Linked DNA regions of Homo sapiens. The protein of the gene in region 1 purifies or fractionates together with the protein of each later gene. This does not show direct contact. Each region holds a gene or a part of one and is shown in the gene's direction. Other genes may lie near its edges.

Region 1 (3,653 bases):
AGGGGACCACAAGCTCAGTGAAATAGCAGCCTCCTTGTATCATGAAGGGGATGAGCACTGCAGCCCATTACATTCTGGCCCAAGCCACTGTGGGGGTGCTGCGAGGAATTCTGGAGCTCACTAGTTTCTAAAATCCACATCAGGAGAATCTGGAAAAGTCCCAAGAAAAGTAAAAAGCAAAAAAAGGAAAAAAGAAAGAAAGAGTGAAAGAGAGATGGAGGGAAGGAAGGAAGGAAAGAAAGAAGGAAGAAAGAAAGCAAGGAAGGAAGGAAAGAAAGAAAGAGAAAGAAAGAAAGAAAATAAAAGAGACAAGTAAAGGAAATACTATCATTGGGTTGGGCATGAAGGAAAAAAGGCATTAAAAACCGCCCTGCACGTGAACCCGGGAGGTGGAGCTTGCAGTGAGCCTAGATCACGCCACTGCACTCCAGCCTGGGAGACAGAGCAAGACTCGGTCCCCCCAAAAAATAAGAACCGCCCTGCAGTGCTACCAAGCATTGGAGCTCCGAAAAGGTGGCTCTCTGTGTATTTCCAATAAGGAGCTAAGAATGGGCTGCTAACACGTCAGGGAAGGAGGAAGCTAGATACAGTGAATGATAATCTAAGATGAACCTAAGAGACCATCATAGACAGCCAGGGCCCATTGGCCGGGATGGTTTGAATGAATCCCTGCTTGAAGGCAGGGAAAAGGCAGGTTTCCCATCCACACTGCCCAGAGACAGAACCAGGAAAACTGACCATTTCAGAGGAGGTCACAGAGAAAAAGGAGGTGAGGACAGGGCAGGGAAGAGGAAGACAAGTTCCCCACCCCCTGTGCCTGAGGTCCTCCAGCTTCCCGAGGGTGTGGGGGTTTGTCCTGCTGAGAGAAGTGCAGGTGCTCAGAACCACTGCTCTGCCTCATGGTGCCGTTTGCCTGGCTTATAACACTCTGACCCCAGAAAGGGCAGGAAAGGGGTGGGGAGGGCAACTGAGGGGCCCTTTCCTGAGCATGCTGGGGCTGGGTGGTGAAGGGGGAAGAGGTGGGCCGGGGGCTGGACAGCTGCTTTCAGAGAGCTCAGAATGTTGGCAATCCATGGGCACCAGCCTGGCAATCCAATGCCCCTTCCTCATTCTCTTCGGTCCCTGCCTCACGACTGCAGGGGACATATGCGTCATTTTCTCTCAGTAGACAGGAAAGAGCCAGCTGCTGGAGCTGGATTTTGGTCCAGGCAGTGTTACTGACTGAGCTGAAAGGTTCCTGCTGGCCCCGTTCCCAGCCACCATCACCCATATCCACCCACACAGATCCTCTTTTCTCATTTCCGACATCCGTCTCTCACCTCAGGCCCAATGGGGAGGAAGAAGACACCCTGAATAACAGAAACAAACCCCATTTCATCAGCACCACCACAAGCCGCCCCATAGCCTTTCCTCCTCTCGCTGTGAGCTGGGCTTGTTCTAGGGTTTGGCCCTTCCATCTCGGCTCAAGAGTCTCTTGGTCTTTTGGTGGGGGCAGCAGACAAGACGTGCAGACAGGCCAGGCACGGTGCCTCACACCTGTAATCCCAGCACTTTGGGAGGCTGAGGCGGGTGGATCACGAGGTCAGGAGATCGAGACCATCCTGGCTAACACGGTGAAACCCCGTCTCTACTAAAAATAAAAAAAATTAGCCGGGTGTGGTGGCGGGCGCCTGTAATCCCAGCTACTTGGGAGGCTGAGGCAGAAGAATGGTGTGAACCCGGGAGGTGGAGCTTGCAGTGAGCCGAGATCGCATCACTGCACTCCAGCCTGGGCGACAAAGCAAGACTCCGTCTCAAAAAAAAAAAAAAAAAAAAAAAAAAAAAAGACGTGCAGACCATCTTAGTGAAGCACTGTGCCTCTTCCTTTTTAGACCCTGGTGGTCAAACCAGAGGATGTGTACGCCATGAACCCCCCCAAGTTCGACAGGATCGAAGACATGGCCATGCTGACGCACCTGAATGAGCCAGCCGTGCTGTACAACCTGAAGGACCGTTACACATCTTGGATGATCTATGTCAGCGAGGGCTTTCGACGTGGTTTCCCTGGGGCATTAGATATGCGGGCAGGGGAGGGAGGCAGAGGTATGTGTGTGGGCCGTGGGATTCTGGAAGATGAGTGCTTGCCTAGCTGATGAACAAAACACAAAGACGGAGGAGAAAGAAGGCAAGAAAGCAAGAGGTGGATGGGGCAGGAAGAAGGAAGGTGGGAAGGAGGACCAGGAGCCGGAGAGCGGGGAAGCTGGGGCCAGGCTTGGTCACGGGGTGCTGTGACTTACCAACTGTGGGAGGGTCGCCACTCCCCTTTTTGAGTCTCAGTGCCTCACTATAAATAGGAATGGTAGCCTCCCCCCTTTATAAGTTTATCCCAAAGAAACATGAGATAATAATAAAGGCAGCTGGGTGTGGTGGCTCACGCCCGTAATCCCAGCACTTTGGGAGGGTAAGGCGGGTGGATCATGAGGTCAAGAGATCGAGACCATTCTGGCCAACATGGTGAAGCCCCATCTCTACTAAAATACAAAAATTAGCCGGGCGTGATGGCATGTACCTGTAGTCCCAGCTACTCGGGAGGCTGAGGCAGGAGAATTGCTTGAACCCGGGAGGTGGAGGTTGCAGTGAGCCAAGATCGTGCCACTGCACTCCAGCCTGGTGACAGAGTGAGACTCCGTCTCAAAAAAAAAAAAAAACAATAATAATAATAAAGGCAAGGGGTTTTCCATATGCACATACATACATATACGCACGTATATGTTTTTCCTCCCACAGACCTACTCAGGCCTCTTCTGTGTCACTGTCAACCCCTACAAGTGGCTGCCGGTGTACAACCCCGAGGTGGTGGAAGGCTACCGAGGCAAAAAGCGCCAGGAGGCCCCACCCCACATCTTCTCCATCTCTGACAACGCCTATCAGTTCATGCTGACTGGTGAGTTTCCCAGGAGGAAGCATGGGATGCTGGAGCAGGCACTGCATGAGGCGAGCGGCAGTTGCCCCTTACTCCCAGGCTGGACCCCATCTGGTGTTTAGCACAGGGAAAGGAGGAAGAAGGAGCCAAAAGAGGCAGAAAGGGGCTGCATCATGTAGGGCCCCGCATGCCAAGGTGACGAGTTTTGGATTTAATGCAAGTTAGAATATGCAAAACGGATATGGATGTTTTCATGGATCAAAACCAAAAACTGATCATTTTATATAGTTCAGCCTAATACAGCAAGAACGATGAGAAGCCACTGGCTGGTTTTTTTTTTTTTTTTTTGAGATGGAGTCTTGCTATGTTGCCCAGGCTGGAGTGCAGTGGTGTGATCTCGGCTCACCACAACCTCTGCCTCCCGGGTTCAAGCGATTCTCCTGCCTCAGCCTCCCGAGTAGCTGCGACTACAGGTATGCACCACCATGTCCGGCTATTTTTATATTTTTAATAGAGACAGGGGTCACTTTGTTGGCCAGGCTGGTCTCAAACTCCTGACCTCGTGATCTGCCTGCCACAGCCTCCCAAAGTGCTGGGATTACAGGCATGAGCCACTGCACCCGGCTGCCACTGGCTGATTCTGAGTGGAGACTTGCCCTCTCTGAGTCTCAGTCTCAAGAAGGAGGCTTTCGATATTGACCAAAGGATACAGCTGGAAAGGAGAAATCGGTGCTGGTGATCTGTCCCATAG
Region 2 (3,746 bases), on another chromosome or scaffold:
CCCTGTCTAAATAAATAAATAAATAAAATGTGAATGGAAGTAAGAATGCTAGGTAAGAGAAGTATAGTGGTGGAGTGGTATTTTGAATATATGTGCACATATGTTTTTATTTCACCATAGAAAAGGTTTGGAATGCCTTCATTGTCACCTTATGTTTGAGACAAAACGAAACTGTGGCTAAAATTATAGAAGCATTTTAAGGGAAGTACTGAAACTGATGCTAACAAAATGAAATTTTTGTCTTAGTATTTTACATGCCAAAGTAATACATCTAAATCCTTCATCTATAGATAAAATTTGTCTTTTTAGTCTTTCTTAGTGCATTTTGGGCTGCTATAACAAAATACCTTAGATGAGTAATTTATACATGACAGAAATTTAGTGCTCACAGTTCTGGAAGCTGGGAAGTCTAAGATCAAGGTTCCAGCCAGTAGATCTGGTGTCTGATGAGGGCTCATTGCTCATTTATGGCACCTTCTGTGTGTCCTCACGTGGTGGGATAACAGACTCCCTCAAGCTTCTATAAGGATACTAACTGCATTCATGTGGTCAGAGCCCTCATCACCTAATCATGTCCCAAAGGCCCCACCTCTTAATACTATAGCACTGCAGATTAGGTTTTAACATAGCAATTTTGGGAGTACACAAACATTTAGACCATAGAGCTGATAAGCTTTTTTTTTTTTTTTTTTTTTTTTTGGTGAGGTGGAATTATATTGTATAAATTTTTTTTCTTTCATCAGCTAAATTTTTCCTTTAGTGTCACAGTGAGCTTATGGGATATGTGGAGCATACATCTCATCTCATAGCTGAAATGCATATGTCTGTTGGTCTTCAACAACATTTCCATTTTCTTATGTTACATATGAGTGTTATATTTGCTTATTTGTTTGTTTTCGAATATAGAACCTGAATTTGAAACTAGCCTACTACATGGGCAGGGTGAACTCTGTTAATCAGGTGTCTACAGAAATCTGAACCAATGGAGTCTGCTTCTGTGGGTCTTGAAGAGTCATTTTTAAGAGTTTATAGACATGGAATATCTTGACTTGTACATTTTTGCTTCTGTCCTGACTGTTCTTATTTATCAAGTGATAAATTCTTGTATACCTTTTAATAGTCCTAGATTAAAGGTATATGGGTTTGAGGAGGATTCAGTGTTGTTAAAACATTTTGTAAGGCACTGTGTAGCCATAAAGCTCAACGTTTCTGATATCCTTCAGCATAAGAATTTAATAATCAACCCAAAATAGAGAGACATGAATATTTGTGGTCTTGATTAGTTAGAAAATTGCTGTACTTATTTTGGGGTTTTTAGTTATTTGGGAGAAATATTTTAAATCTCCGTGTGTGTGCATTCTTTACTTGCGTGTAGTCCTTATTGTGAAAGGGGGATGACTTTGTTATGTATTTTTTGTGACTAAACTTTAATTGATCCTTCTGTTTCTTAATCTGTTCTTCTCCAGATCACTGATTTTATGAGTTTTCAGAATAGTAAGTAAGGGTATGAAGACTTACAGTAACTAAAGCAATGTTCATGGGGAAATCTATTTTTACACAGGTTTTCTTGTCTTGACAAGATGCTTGAAAAACCAAGAGGATATGAAAATCTGTCTCTGGAGAAACAAAGACGCAGGCATACTCAGCCAGAAATCTGAGTTTTGTGAGACTTGGTAATACAGAGATGGACAATCGTACTGGGGTAAAAAAACCCTGCTGAAGAGAGGACAGTGACCACAGAACTCAGTGTACCAAACATGCATACAAAGGACACACAGGGATTTTGAAAATGCTGCACATCCCTTAATAGTCATCTACATAGGTAATACTGATAAACATTTTGTATTCAGACGCCAAAGTTAACTGATTTAAAAGTTGATTTACTTTTTATTAAGTTCTCCAGAGCTGCACAACTAGTTATGTTTTGATTTGTTTTGTTTTTTAATTTGGGGTCTCTTTGTTTTCCCCAACATAATGTTCATAATGTTTCTGCATTCATCTGTTCTTAAATTGAAAAACATATAATTTACTTCTTATAAATTGAAGTCTTAAATGTGAAACCAAGAAATGTAATCAAGCAGTAAAAACATCTGAATGTAGACCATGATCTCAAGTTCTTCCATTTTCTCCCCCACGAGTGGAAAATAGACTTCTACATAGGAAAGCTAAAATATGTTAATATTTTTAAATTAAAGGTTTAATATCAGAATGCAGTCCAAAGAGCAAATCATATTACATAATTACATTTTAATTAAATATAGAATATTCTACTGAATTGCAATTTATTAAATATTCTTATCCTCTTAAATAAAACTGCTCAACAGTTAATCAGCAGTGAATCATCTTGCAGCTATGCAATTTAAAAAAAATACAGATTACCAATTTCAAGTGCTGCCAGCTAAAATAACTGTTTTAACGGGTATCTTTTGTTTGTTCTTTTCACTTAATTATTTTATTGTGCTTTGCATCTCCAGGCAGTTCTCTCACATTTGGGTAAAATGTTTAGCAGGCTGTAAACTTAAGAAAAGGGTAAAATAAAATTTTCTGGAGAGGAACTTGGAATTTGAGGGAGATTTTATATACCTTTAAAAACTGTAATTTAATTGGGATGCCAGGTTTATAGCAATTTGCAACTTTAATTTTCCAGATAATCTGGAGGTTAGCATTTGATAAATGATTTTTTAAAGTAGATATGAAGATTTTGTTAATTTATAATTTATTCATGTGTTATTACTGTAATTGAAAATGTTATAGACACTTTTAAATTCAGTTTGTGTAGAAAGAAATGTGTTAAACAAAATTATGTTAATAAATATTCCCACATAATACATCTGAATGGTTAAAAATACTGGAAGAGTTGTCAGGGCTACAATAGTGAATGTCCTTTTTTTTAATATCAAAAATATCGATAAGTAGGTTTTGTGTTTTCAACGTAGGGAAAATGTTATCAGTGAATAGGTGGTGTACTTTACTTGGTATAATTTAAAGTTGCACAGTAAGTACTGTTTCCTTATTTTAATCTTTCTTTACTCATAATGTATTTAAGAATTTGCTGTTTTATTTAACGCTGCTACTCTTAATCTTCTCTAAATTTTTCCCCCTACTTTCTTGCTTCTGTTTCACATTTTTTAAAAGGGCAAGTACAGGAGCAACTGCTGCTACCCAGAAAAATGTGTGTATTATAAATAATTAAAGAGTTTTTAATTGCTTTCTGTATGATTCCAGCTCAGATAACATTTTCCCTGAAGTTATGCTGTGAAATGCCTTTTGTTATGCTGCAATTGCTAAAGGAATCCAAAACCTCCATTGTGACAGCTGAAGGCACAGTTTAATAGGTGCTTTTTTACTAGTTATGAAAAATATTCGTCCCTTAAGGAAACGATTCTTTTTCTGTTTTTTTCTGTTACCATGAAGTCTTAATTTGATTTCATTTTATTTCACATTTTTGATTTTGTAAGCTTTCATACCCTCCTGCTCAACCCCCTCAAGTAAAACCTCTTAGAATGTGAATAATTGGTTCATTTTCTATTGCTGGTATACTCTTGTGATGAGAATTATTTTGTTGTCTTCCATTCTTAAAGGAAGAGATTTATTACAGCTGTGGGGATTAACTGTATTCTCCTGGAAGTTGATTTTCTGATAGGTTAATGCAAAAGTCATTGCAAAAACTGCTATTACTTTTGCGCCAATTTAATAGTTCACTTGTTTACTTTTTAACCTATATTGGCTTAAATTCACTTTTTAGC

The links. The genes of interacting proteins can lie anywhere in the genome.
Region 2: the proteins of MYH3 (region 1) and ZNRF2 purify together in Homo sapiens (affinity purification with mass spectrometry; one large-scale study listed by BioGRID and IntAct). This does not show direct contact.

The regions. Positions count from the first base shown.
Region 1 is NC_000017.11:10,650,782-10,654,434, reverse strand, and holds part of MYH3 (myosin-3), read left to right. Parts: intron 1-1,871; coding exon 1,872-2,015; intron 2,016-2,766; coding exon 2,767-2,923; intron 2,924-3,653. UniProt on the Homo sapiens protein: Muscle contraction.
Region 2 is NC_000007.14:30,364,474-30,368,219, forward strand, and holds the end of ZNRF2 (E3 ubiquitin-protein ligase ZNRF2), read left to right. Parts: intron 1-1,466; exon of another isoform or gene 1,467-1,531; intron 1,532-1,561; 3' UTR 1,562-3,216; downstream 3,217-3,746. UniProt on the Homo sapiens protein: E3 ubiquitin-protein ligase that plays a role in the establishment and maintenance of neuronal transmission and plasticity. Ubiquitinates the Na(+)/K(+) ATPase alpha-1 subunit/ATP1A1 and thereby influences its endocytosis and/or degradation.